Linked DNA regions of Homo sapiens: region 2 is linked to region 1. The links come from fine-mapping of genetic effects on gene expression. Tissue or cell type: whole blood. Region 1 holds a variant in brackets; the other region holds the start of a gene. All regions are shown on one strand. Distances are between the middles of the regions.

The links. PIP is the estimated chance that this variant, and not a neighbour inherited with it, causes the effect.
Region 2: it holds the start of NCF1, and the variant in region 1 is fine-mapped to the expression of NCF1 in whole blood (INTERVAL, PIP above 0.99).

What each region holds. Positions count from the first base shown.
Region 1 is chr7:74,699,359-74,704,702 of GRCh38, forward strand. It overlaps GTF2I (general transcription factor IIi), which reads left to right. Exons shown (of 35, transcript NM_032999.4): 5 at 889-1,072; 6 at 1,248-1,276. It overlaps GTF2I-AS1 (GTF2I antisense RNA 1), which reads right to left. Exons shown (of 4, transcript NR_110044.1): 3 at 852-1,022. Among named protein-coding and RNA genes, the nearest start is that of GTF2I-AS1, 27 kb to the right of the region's middle. The variant CT/C (reference allele first, on the strand shown) is at 2,869.
Region 2 is chr7:74,771,502-74,776,668 of GRCh38, forward strand. NCF1 (neutrophil cytosolic factor 1) reads left to right here and starts at 2,510. Exons shown (of 11, transcript NM_000265.7): 1 at 2,510-2,602. The coding sequence starts at 2,531. RefSeq lists an enhancer at 791-1,336.

The DNA of each region.
Region 1 (5,344 bases):
CTCAGCTCACTGCAATCTCCGCCTCCCGGTTTCAAGTGATTCTCCTGCCTCAGCCCCCTGAGTAACTAGGATTACAGGTGTCCGCCACCATGCCCGGCTAATTTTTGTGTTAAATTTTAGTAGAGATGGGGTTTCACCACATTCGCCAGGCTGGTCTCGAACTCCTGATCTCAGGTGATCCACCCACCTTGGCCTCCCAAAGTGCTGGGATTACAGGCGTGAGCCACCATGCCTGGCCTAGCTGTTTCTTTCTAATAAGCATGCTCATCTCTCTAATTCCATGCAAAGCCACCTTTTCTTACTCTTGTCACATCATAAAACAAAGCTCTTACAAGAAAACAGTCAAAGGAGGAGATTGAGGTTTTACTGCAGGGTCATAGGTGAAAATCAATTCTCTGGAATGGGATTTTCAGTATGTGTGAGGCTCGCTGCCCAATAGGTTGACAGTATATACTCATTTGTAAATGGGAAGTTTGTATTTACCTGATAAGTTTTCAATGAGAATATTAGCCAAAACATTCCTGGTATTTTATGGTAATAGTTGGATGTGCTGGGCTTCTGTATTCTGAGGCCAAATTGTACCTGAGAATATGCCAGGATGGGACCATCTTCAAGAAAGACAATAGTGCAAGAAACCAACCATTGCTCTCTCTATGTGTTTTTTAAAGTAAAATATTTTATCTACTTTTCATTTTGGCCCTTCGGATCAGTTTCAGGTTTAGACCTTCTGCTGACATGGGGAGATAGAATGCTGTAGTATTAATTAATTTTGAAATCATATATTATAAAAAATCATGGATGCCCTTATTAAGCCACAATAAGCTAGCGATGATTTCATTTTGTAATCTTACCATTGAATGATGTTCATCCGCTTTTCATCTGCCCCAGGGAAAGCTTTAGGCAAATCCACAGTGGTACCTGTACCATATGAGAAGATGCTGCGAGACCAGTCGGCTGTGGTAGTGCAGGGGCTTCCGGAAGGTGTTGCCTTTAAACACCCCGAGAACTATGATCTTGCAACCCTGAAATGGATTTTGGAGAACAAAGCAGGGATTTCATTCATCATTAAGAGGTGAAGTGCTTTCTCCCTTTGTACCCATCAACAGTTGATTCGTATAAATTTGAATATTTAGCTTACGTTAATGTATTTTTAAAATTCATATTTAACACAGAAGTCATTTAAATGTATGCTTTACAATAATTTTGCGTATTCATACGAAGTTTTGTTTTGTTTTGTTTTAATGCAGACCTTTTTTAGAGCCAAAGAAGCATGTAGGTAAGTAAGTGCTTTGCTTCCTTGATAGCTGGCTGGCCTCCGTTTTGCTAGATTTTCATACACTTTAATGGTTTCTGTTTTATTGTCTTTGAGAATATGATGTCAGACATTTTCGGATGGGCTGTTTAGATGTTTATATAATCCACAAAAGGTTCATTGAGCTAAAAAAGTGGAGACTTGTTTTTTTGTTTTCAGCTTCGCTGCTTGTTTTCTATAGAAGATCATACATCTGCCCTCACTTACCAGAATTATGAGTAGGATTTAATTGACCTAATGTCATCGACTCGGCAAGACGTTGTTGGGCACAGCATTGGGTGGGGAGGGGATACGCAGCTGTGTATCAGCATTACCACTTTTGAGAGCTGTGAGTCTCACGGAAGAGAGAAAATTCTGTAAAATGAACATGGCAAGAACATTGCATCCCTACGGCAAGAATGGCTCTGAGAAAGTGCTGTGGATGTTATTGGAGGTTGGATTCCTTTATAGTTCAGGAAAGAGTTCATGAGGAAGAGAGCATTTCCAGGAAGGGCGTTTGAAGAATGATGCGGATTTCAGCTTCCTTTAGGGAAGTCTAGCCATTTCATTTGAAGGGAAAACAGGATAAAGAGTAATACCCTTTAGAGCCAGGTTTATTTGAGACTTTCGGAAGTAAATAACCAGTATCATTGGAATACTTTTAAACATGTAACTATGAAAGGAAAAAATTATATATACATAAACATACACATTGTGTTTTCTGTTAACCTTTGTCTTATTCTCATTGTGGTGAAAAGATTAATTTTTTAGCAGCTTTATTGAGGTATAATTGATACACCATAAAATTCACCTGCCTTTTTTTTTTATTATTATTTTTTGAGACGGAGTCTTGCTCTGTCGCCAAGGCTGGAGTGCAGTGGCGCGATCTTGGCTCACTGCAGCCTCTGCTTCCCAGGTTCAAGTGATTCTGCCTCAGCCTCCCGAGTAGCTGGGATTACAGGCACATGCTGCCACGCCCGGCTAATTTTTTGTATTTTTAGTAGAGATGGGGTTTCACCATGTTAGGATGATCTCGAACTCCTGACCTCAAATGATCCACCCGCCCCGGCCTCCCAAAGTGCTGGGATTACAGGCGTGAGCCACTGTGCCCAGCCAAATTCACCTGTCTTAAGTATATAATTCACTAATAGTAGATTTACAATCTTAAAATGTTTTTAAGGGGTTTTTACCCATCATCACAGTCTTAATTTTGGGATGCTTTCATCGTCCCTGTCTCTGTTATTTCATGAATGTTGTAGAAATGGAATATGTAGTATGTATCCTATTGAAATGAGCTTTTTTCACTGAGCATCACTCACTCGAGGCTCATCGAGCTTGGTAGGTGTAGCCGTAGCTTCTTTTTATTGCTGAGCACTAACTATTCTGTGACATGAACATACTGTCTGTTGATCCAGTCATCAGTTTATAGATATTTTGGTTGTTTCCACCTTTGGGTATTGGGAATAATGTTACAGTGAACATACTTGAGCAAGGTTTTGTCTGGACATATTCCTTGATATCTCTTGGATATTTACGTAGGAGTGCAATTACTAGGAATAGGGTAAATTTACACTGAA[CT/C]TTTTTTTTTTTTTTAATTGAGACGGAGTCTCGTTCTGTCACCAAGTTGGAGTGCAGTGGCATGATCTTGGCTCACTGCAACCTCCGCCTCGTGGATTCAAGAGATTCACCTGCCTCAGCCTCCTGAGTAGCTGGGATTACAGGCACGCGCCACCACACCCGGCTAATTTTTGTATTTTTAGTAGAGACGAGGTTTCACCATGTTGGCCAGGATGGTCTCAATCTCTTGACCTCATGATCAAGGGAGGCCTCTCAAAGTGCTGAGATTACAGGCGTGAGCCATCGCGCCCTGCTACACTGAACTTTGAAGAAACTGACAAGCTGTTTTCCAAGGTGGCTATACCATGTTATATTCTCACAGCAGGATAGGAGGGTTACCCCCACATTGCTGCCAACTTACTTCTTGATTTTAGCCATTGTAATAGATGTGAAGTGGTATCTAATTTTTTTTGATTTTTAAAAATTTCTCTAGTGATTGTTGATGTGTTTTTACTTTTCTTTCTTTCTTTCTTTTTTTTTTTTTTGAGACAGGGTCTCACCCTGTCGCCCAGGCTGGAGTGTAGTGGCGCCATCTCAGCTTAGTGCAGCCTCAACCTCCCAGGCTCAAGCAATCCTGCTGCCTCAGCTTCTCAGTAGCTAGGACTACAGGCGTGTGCCACCATACCCAGCTCATTTCTGAACCTTTTTTTGGTAGAGACAAGCTCTTGCCGTGTTGGCCAGGCTGGTCTGGAACTCCTGAGCTCAAGTGATCCGCCTGTGTCAGCCTCCCAAAGTGCTGGGATTACAGGCTTGTGTTATCTTCAATTGTGCTTATTGGTCATCCATACATATTTTTTGGAGAAATATCTATTTAGGTCCTTTTCCCATTTAAAAATTGGGTTTGTTTGTCTTTTTATTATTGAGTCTTGTTTTTTATATAGTCTTGATATAAGTCTCTAATTGATGATTTGTTAAAAAAAAATTTTTTTTTTCTTTTTGCAATGGTGTCACTCTGTTATCCAGGCTGGAGTACAGGATTTGGGAATATTTTCTCCAATTCTAATAAATCTACATTATCCTTATTGTATAACTTGTCTTCTTCCCTTACTTGGTAGTATCCTTTGAGGCACAAACGTTTTAAATTTTGATAAAAATAAGTTTATTCTTTTGTTAACTTGTGCTTTTTTTTTTGAGACAGAGTCTCGCTGTGTCACCCAGGCTGGAGTGCGGTGGCATGATCTCAGCTCACTGCAACCTCTGCCTCCCGGGTTCAAGCAATTCTCCTGTCTCAGCCTCCCGAGTAGCTGGGACTACAGGTGCCCGCCACCATGCCCGGATAACTTTAGTATTTTTAGTGGATACGGGGTTTCACCATATTGGTCAGGCTGGTCTCAAACTCCAGACCTCAGGTGATCCACCTGCCTCAGCCTCCCAGAGTGCTGGGATTATAGGCGTGAGCCACTGCGCCTGGCCCTCACTTAAGCTTTTGACTTCATATTCAAGAAACCATTGCGTAAACCCAAAGGCATGAAGATATGACTTCTGTGTTTTCTTCCACAAGTCTTATAGCTTCAACTCTCACATTTAGATCTATGGTTCATTTTGAGGTCATTTTTGTATATTATACAAGGTAAAGGTATAAATTCATCTTTTTGCACGTGGATATCCAATGATTCCAGGACAATTTGCAGAAAAGACCGTCCTTTCCCTCAAGATATCCTTGTTATCTTTGTTGAAAGTCTTTTGACTCTTTGTTTATTTCTGGGCTTTCTATGTAGGAGATCATGTTGTGTGAGAATCAAGACAATTTACCCCTTTCTTTGCAATCTAAGTGCCTCTTATTTCTTCTTCTTGTTGCTCTGACTAGAATATAAATGTCACACAGCATTGGTGATAGCAGACATCACCTTGTGATATTAGTAGGAAAGCATTCTGTCTTTGACCATGAAGTATGATGTTAGTGGTAGGATTTTTGTGTAAATCTCTTTTAAGATGGAGAAATATTTATCATGTTTATGTTAAATTTCAGACTTAAAAGTTTTTTTTAAACTTAATTATTATTTTTATTTATTTATTTATTTATTTATTTTTTTATTTATTTTGAGATGGAGTCTTGCTCTGTCGCCCAGGCTGGAGTGCAGTGGCATGATCTTGGCTCACTACAACATCTGCCTCCCAGGCTCAAGCAAATCTCCTGCCTCAGCCTTCTGAGTAACTGGGATTACAGGCGCCCGCCACCACACCTGGCTAATTTTTATATTTTTTTAGCAGAGACGGGGGTTCACCATGTTGGCCAGGCTGGTCTCAAACCCCTGACCTCAAGCAATCTACCCATCTCAGCCTCCCAAAGTGCTGGGATTACAGGTGTGAGCCTCCACGCCCAGCCTAATCTCAGCATTTTGGGAGACCAGAGTGGGAGTCTCCCTTGAGGCCAGGAGTTCGAGATAAGCCTGGGCAACATAGCAAGATCCAATTTCTACAAAAAATAGAAAACAA
Region 2 (5,167 bases), 72 kb after region 1:
GAATTGCTTGTACCCGGAAGGTGAAGGTTGCAGTGAGCCGAGATCATGCCACTGCATACCAGCCTGGGGGACAGAAAGAGACTCTGTCTCAAAAAAAAAAAAAAGAAAAAAAGAAGTGAAGCACTTGCCAAGCAAATCTTTCAGAGCAGGTGGAGTGGACCCTACACCTCTTGGATAATAAATGCACTGGATAATAAAAGCAGGAACAGGCCAGGTGCGGTGGCATGTGCCTGTAGTCCCAACCTACTGGGGAGGCCAAGGCAGGAGGACTGCTTGAGCCCAGGAGTTGGAGGCTGCAGTGAGTTATGACCAGGCAACTGCACTCCAGCCTGGGTGACAGATAGAGACCCTGTCTTTAAAAAAAAAAAAAAAAAAAAAAGGGCCAAGCACAGTGGCTCATGCCTGTAATCCCAACACTTTGGGAGGCTGAGGTGGGTGGATCTCCTGAGCTCAGGAGTTCAAGACCAGCCTGGCCAACAGGGTGATACCCCTTCTCTACTAAAAATACAAAATTAGCCAGGCGTGGTGGCGCACACCTGTAATCCCAGCTACTTGGGAAGCTGAGGCAGGAGAATCGCTTGAACCTGGAAGGCAGAGGTTGCAGTGAGCCGAGATTGTGCCACTGCACTCCAGCTTGGGCAACAAGAGCGAAACTTCGCTTCAAACAAATAAATTAACGCCCAGCATGTCTTGGCTTTCATCTGCCAGACCTCAACCCTCACCCCCAGGAGATCAGGTCCGGACCATGAGCTGACCCTGGACTCAGGCAAGGGTGAGTTGGTGCAGCCCTGGCCTGCTGGGAGGCACAGGCTGCAGCAGGCTGCCTGGGGCTGAGGCCCGCCACTCATGAACTCATGACCTTGAATGAGCTCCAAAAGCTCTGGGCCTCCCAGGCTCTAGGGGGAGTGGGAGAGAGAGGCCTCAGCCTGTCCCTGGGCATGCTGCCCCCTCCTCACCTCTTTGTCCCAAATCCCCTTCCTGGCAAAGCTGACAGTCTTAATATCACTCTGGAGAAAACTGAGTCAGCCCTAAGGAACAATTCAATGAACCATTTGCTTACTTGAGGATTGGAACTCAAGTCTCACTCAAAGTCTGTGCCATTTTCGTCCCAGCTGTCACTGGCCCTCATCCACACACACCCAAGGATGAGCATCTAACGCTTGCATGCACACTCCCATGCCCGCGTTCATTCACTCATTCATTCATTCATTCACTCATTCATTGACTCATTCATTCATTCACTCACTCATTCATTCACTCAGTGAATGTTGCAGTCACGATCCAAATATTTATGGCCTCTGTGTGCCAGGCACTAGATGGAGGGGCTGGGGCTAGAGCCCCTGATAACCCGGTCATGCCCTAGCTTTCCTGGGACACACATTGTGGTAAGGGGAGACTAAAAAAATTAAGTCAGGCCAGGCACGGTGGCTCATGCCTGAATCCCAGCACTTTGGGAGGCCGAGGCGAGTGAATTACCTGAGGTCAGGAGTTCAAGACCAGCCTGGCCAACATGGAGAAACCCAGTCTCTAATTAAAAAAAAAAAAAATTAACCAGGTGTGGTGGCACATGCCTGTAATCCCAGCTACTCAGGAGACTAACGCAAGAGAATTGCTTGAACCCAGGAGGCAGAGGTTGCGGTGAGCCGAGATCGCGCCATTGCACTCCAGCCTGGGAAACAAGAGCGAGACTCCATCTCAAAAAAAAAAAAGTGGGAGGCAGAGGCAGGAGGATCACTAGAGGCCAGTAGTTTGAGACCATCCTGGGCAACATAGCAGGACCCTGTCTGTACAAAAAAATTAAAAAAAATTTAACCGGGCATGGTGGCACACACCCGTAGTCCCAGCTACTCCAGAGGCTGAGGCAGGAGGATCGCTGGAGCCCAGGAGTTGGAGGCTGCAGTGAACTGTGATCCCACCACTGCACTTAAGCCTGGATAACAAAGCAAGACCCTGTCTCAAATAACAATAGCAATAATAATAAAGAAAAATTAAATGCAATTTGCGATGCATCAGTGATAAGTGCTCTGCAGAAAAAGGAGGCAGGAAGAGGCTGAGAAAGGTATGAGGTTTGCTATGCAATGTGAAGTTATCAAGGAAGGCTTCTCGGAAGAGGTGACATTTGAGCAGAGAAATGGAGGAGAGTTATGGAGGGAAGATGGTGAATGGGGGGAACATGGTCAAGACCAGGAATATGGTCAAGGGGGGAAAGATGGTCAAGGGGACGCAGCAAATGCAAAGGCCCTGAGGCAGGAGCAGCTTGATTCACCCCCAAAACCCGTGGGGCCCGTGCAGGCGACGGGAAGGACAAGTGTAAACCCTTTTCCTTGTCCCTGCAGGTGTGTGTGAACATGAGTCTGCCCATGTTTACACCCTGCAAGCCTGAAGAGTCCCCAGAAACTGAAAGAAGAAGCAAAGCCCTTTCTGTACCCTCCCTGCCCCCTGTCCCGACCGCGACAAAAGCGACTTCCTCTTTCCAGTGCATTTAAGGCGCAGCCTGGAAGTGCCAGGGAGCACTGGAGGCCACCCAGTCATGGGGGACACCTTCATCCGTCACATCGCCCTGCTGGGCTTTGAGAAGCGCTTCGTACCCAGCCAGCACTATGTGAGTAGCTGGTGGAGGGCATCCCGTGGGGGGAATACGGGAGGGACAGCACGGCCACCCTTGCAGTCCCAGGGCCAACCAGCTCCAGTGAGGACTAACGGGGCAGGGTCTTGGGCACCTGGTCCCTGGTCTTTGAGCCTGGATCTACCCCTCTGATCCCTGGGAAGACAGTTCCCTTGGACCCGCCCTGGGCCCCAGCCCTTTACTGTCCCCGCCTGTGTCCCCAGCCAGGCCCTCAGCCTTAGCCAGGAGTCCTCTTTCTGCTCCCCTGCCATGGCCAGGCAGCCCAGCGCTCTCTCAGGTCCGAGGCCCACTCCTCCAGGAAGCCTTCCCTGACTAGCCCAGCTATCAGAGAGTGGCCCTCCCAAGAGGGAGGCCTGGAAACTAAAGCTCTCTCTCTCCCCAGCTGCCTGTAGTGTCAGTTAGAGTCTTATCCTCTCCAGTAGGGTGACACCATGACAGGGGCCAATAGAGTCCTCCCATCTGTCCCCAAGGAGGCTGGACAAATGCCTGCTCAGACACACAAGTCCACTGGGTCCCCTAATCCCATAGGAAGGCCAGGGAGGAACTACATTTAGGAAATTGAAGCTTGTATGGAACATTTAGTCCTATGTGCCAAGACCTTTCTCTTTTTTGTTATTTTTTTGTTTTTTGAGACAGAGTCTTGATCTGTTGCCCAGGCCAGAGTGCAGTGGCACGATCTCAGCTCACTGCAACCTCCGCCTTCCAGGTTCAACTGGTTCTCCTGCCTCAGCCTCCAGAGTAGTTGGGATTACAGGTGCCCACCACCACGCCTGGCTAATTTTTGTATTTTTAGTAGAGACAGGGTTTCACCATGTTGGCCAGACTGGTCTCAAACTCCTGACCTCAAGTGATCCACCCACCTGGGCCTCCCAAAGTGCTGGGATTACAGGCATGAGCCACCGTGCCTGGCCTGTTTTTTTGAAATGAGGTCTGGAGTGCAGTGGTGCGATCATAGTTCACTGCAGCCTCGACCTCCCAGGCCCAAGTGATCCTCCTGCCTCAGCCCCTTGAGTAGCTGGGGCTACAGGCGCACACCACCATGCCTGGCTAGTTTTTAAAATTTTTGTGGAGATGAGGTTTCACTATGTTGTCCAGGCTAATCTTGAACTCCTCGGCTTAAGCAACCCTCTGGTCTCAGCCTCCCACAGTGCTAGGATTACAAGCGTGAGCTACCGTGCCTAGTCACTTTTCTCCTTTTCTTTGTAACTTTCAGTTTTGAAATTTCAAATTTACAGAAAGGCTACTGGGTGTCAAAACGGTACCAGTCACTCCAATAGTCTTTCACTCACCTTCATCCACACCTCTCTTTCTGGGGATATTTTCTGAATTATTTGAGAGTGAGTTGAAGACGTGTTTCTTTACCTCTAAATACTAGTTGTTGGGCATTTCTTAAAATCAAGGCATTCTCTTACATAATCACAACACACGTGTCAAAATCAGGAAATTAACATGGACAAAACACCATTATCCACCCACAGACTTTACTGAGGTTTCCCCGATTATCCTGCTTGTCCTCTGCAGTGAAAACTTTTTTCAGGTCTAGGATCCAGTCAAGGATCAATGTCATAGCCTTTAACCTTCTTTAATCTGGATCAGTCTTTTTTCTTTTTCTTTTTCTTTTTTTGGACACGGAATCTCACTCTGTCGCCAGACTGGAGTGCAGTGGTGCAATCTCGGCTCATTGCAACCTCTGCCTCCTGGGTTCAAGAGATTCTCCTGCCTCAGCCTCCTGAGTAGCTGGGAATACAGGTGCGCGCCACCATGCCCAGCTCGCATTTTTTGGTAGAGACAGGGTTTTGCCATATTGATTCTGGATCAGTCTTTTTTTTTTTTTTATGAGATGGAGTCTTACTCTGTCACCCAGGCTGGAGTGCAATGGCACAATCTCCACTCACTGCATCCTCCGCCTCCCAGGTTCAAGCAATTCTCGTGCCTCAGCCTCCCGAGTAGCTGGGATTACAGGCATGCGCCACCATGCCCGGCTACTTTTTGTATTTTTAGTAGAGACAGGGTTTCACCATGTTAGCCAGGCTGATCTCGAACTCCTGACGTCAGGTGATCTGCCCGCCTCGACCTCCCAAAGTGCTGGGATTACAGGCGTGAGCCACCGTGCCAGCGGATTCTGGATCGGTCTTAATCAGTCTTTGTCTTTTGCAACTTTGATGTTTTGCAGAGAGCAGACCAGTTACCTTGTAGAATGTCCCTTAGTTTGGGTTTATCTTCATTAGATTCAGTTTGTGTATCCAGGGCAGTGGATCTTAGATGCAATTCTGTCTTCTTTTTAATTTTTTTGAGAGGGAGTCTCGCTCTGTCACCCAGGCTGGAGTGCAGTGGCACAACCTCAGCTCACTGCAGCCTCCGCCTCCCGGGTTCAAGCAATTATCCTGTCCCAGCCTCCCAAGTAGCTGGGATCACAGGTGCCCATCACCACTACCGGGTAATTTTTGTGTTTTTAGTAGAGACAGGGTTTCACCATATTGGTCAGGCTGGTCTTGAACGCCTGACCTCAGGTGATCCACCTGCCTTGGCCTCCCAAAGTGC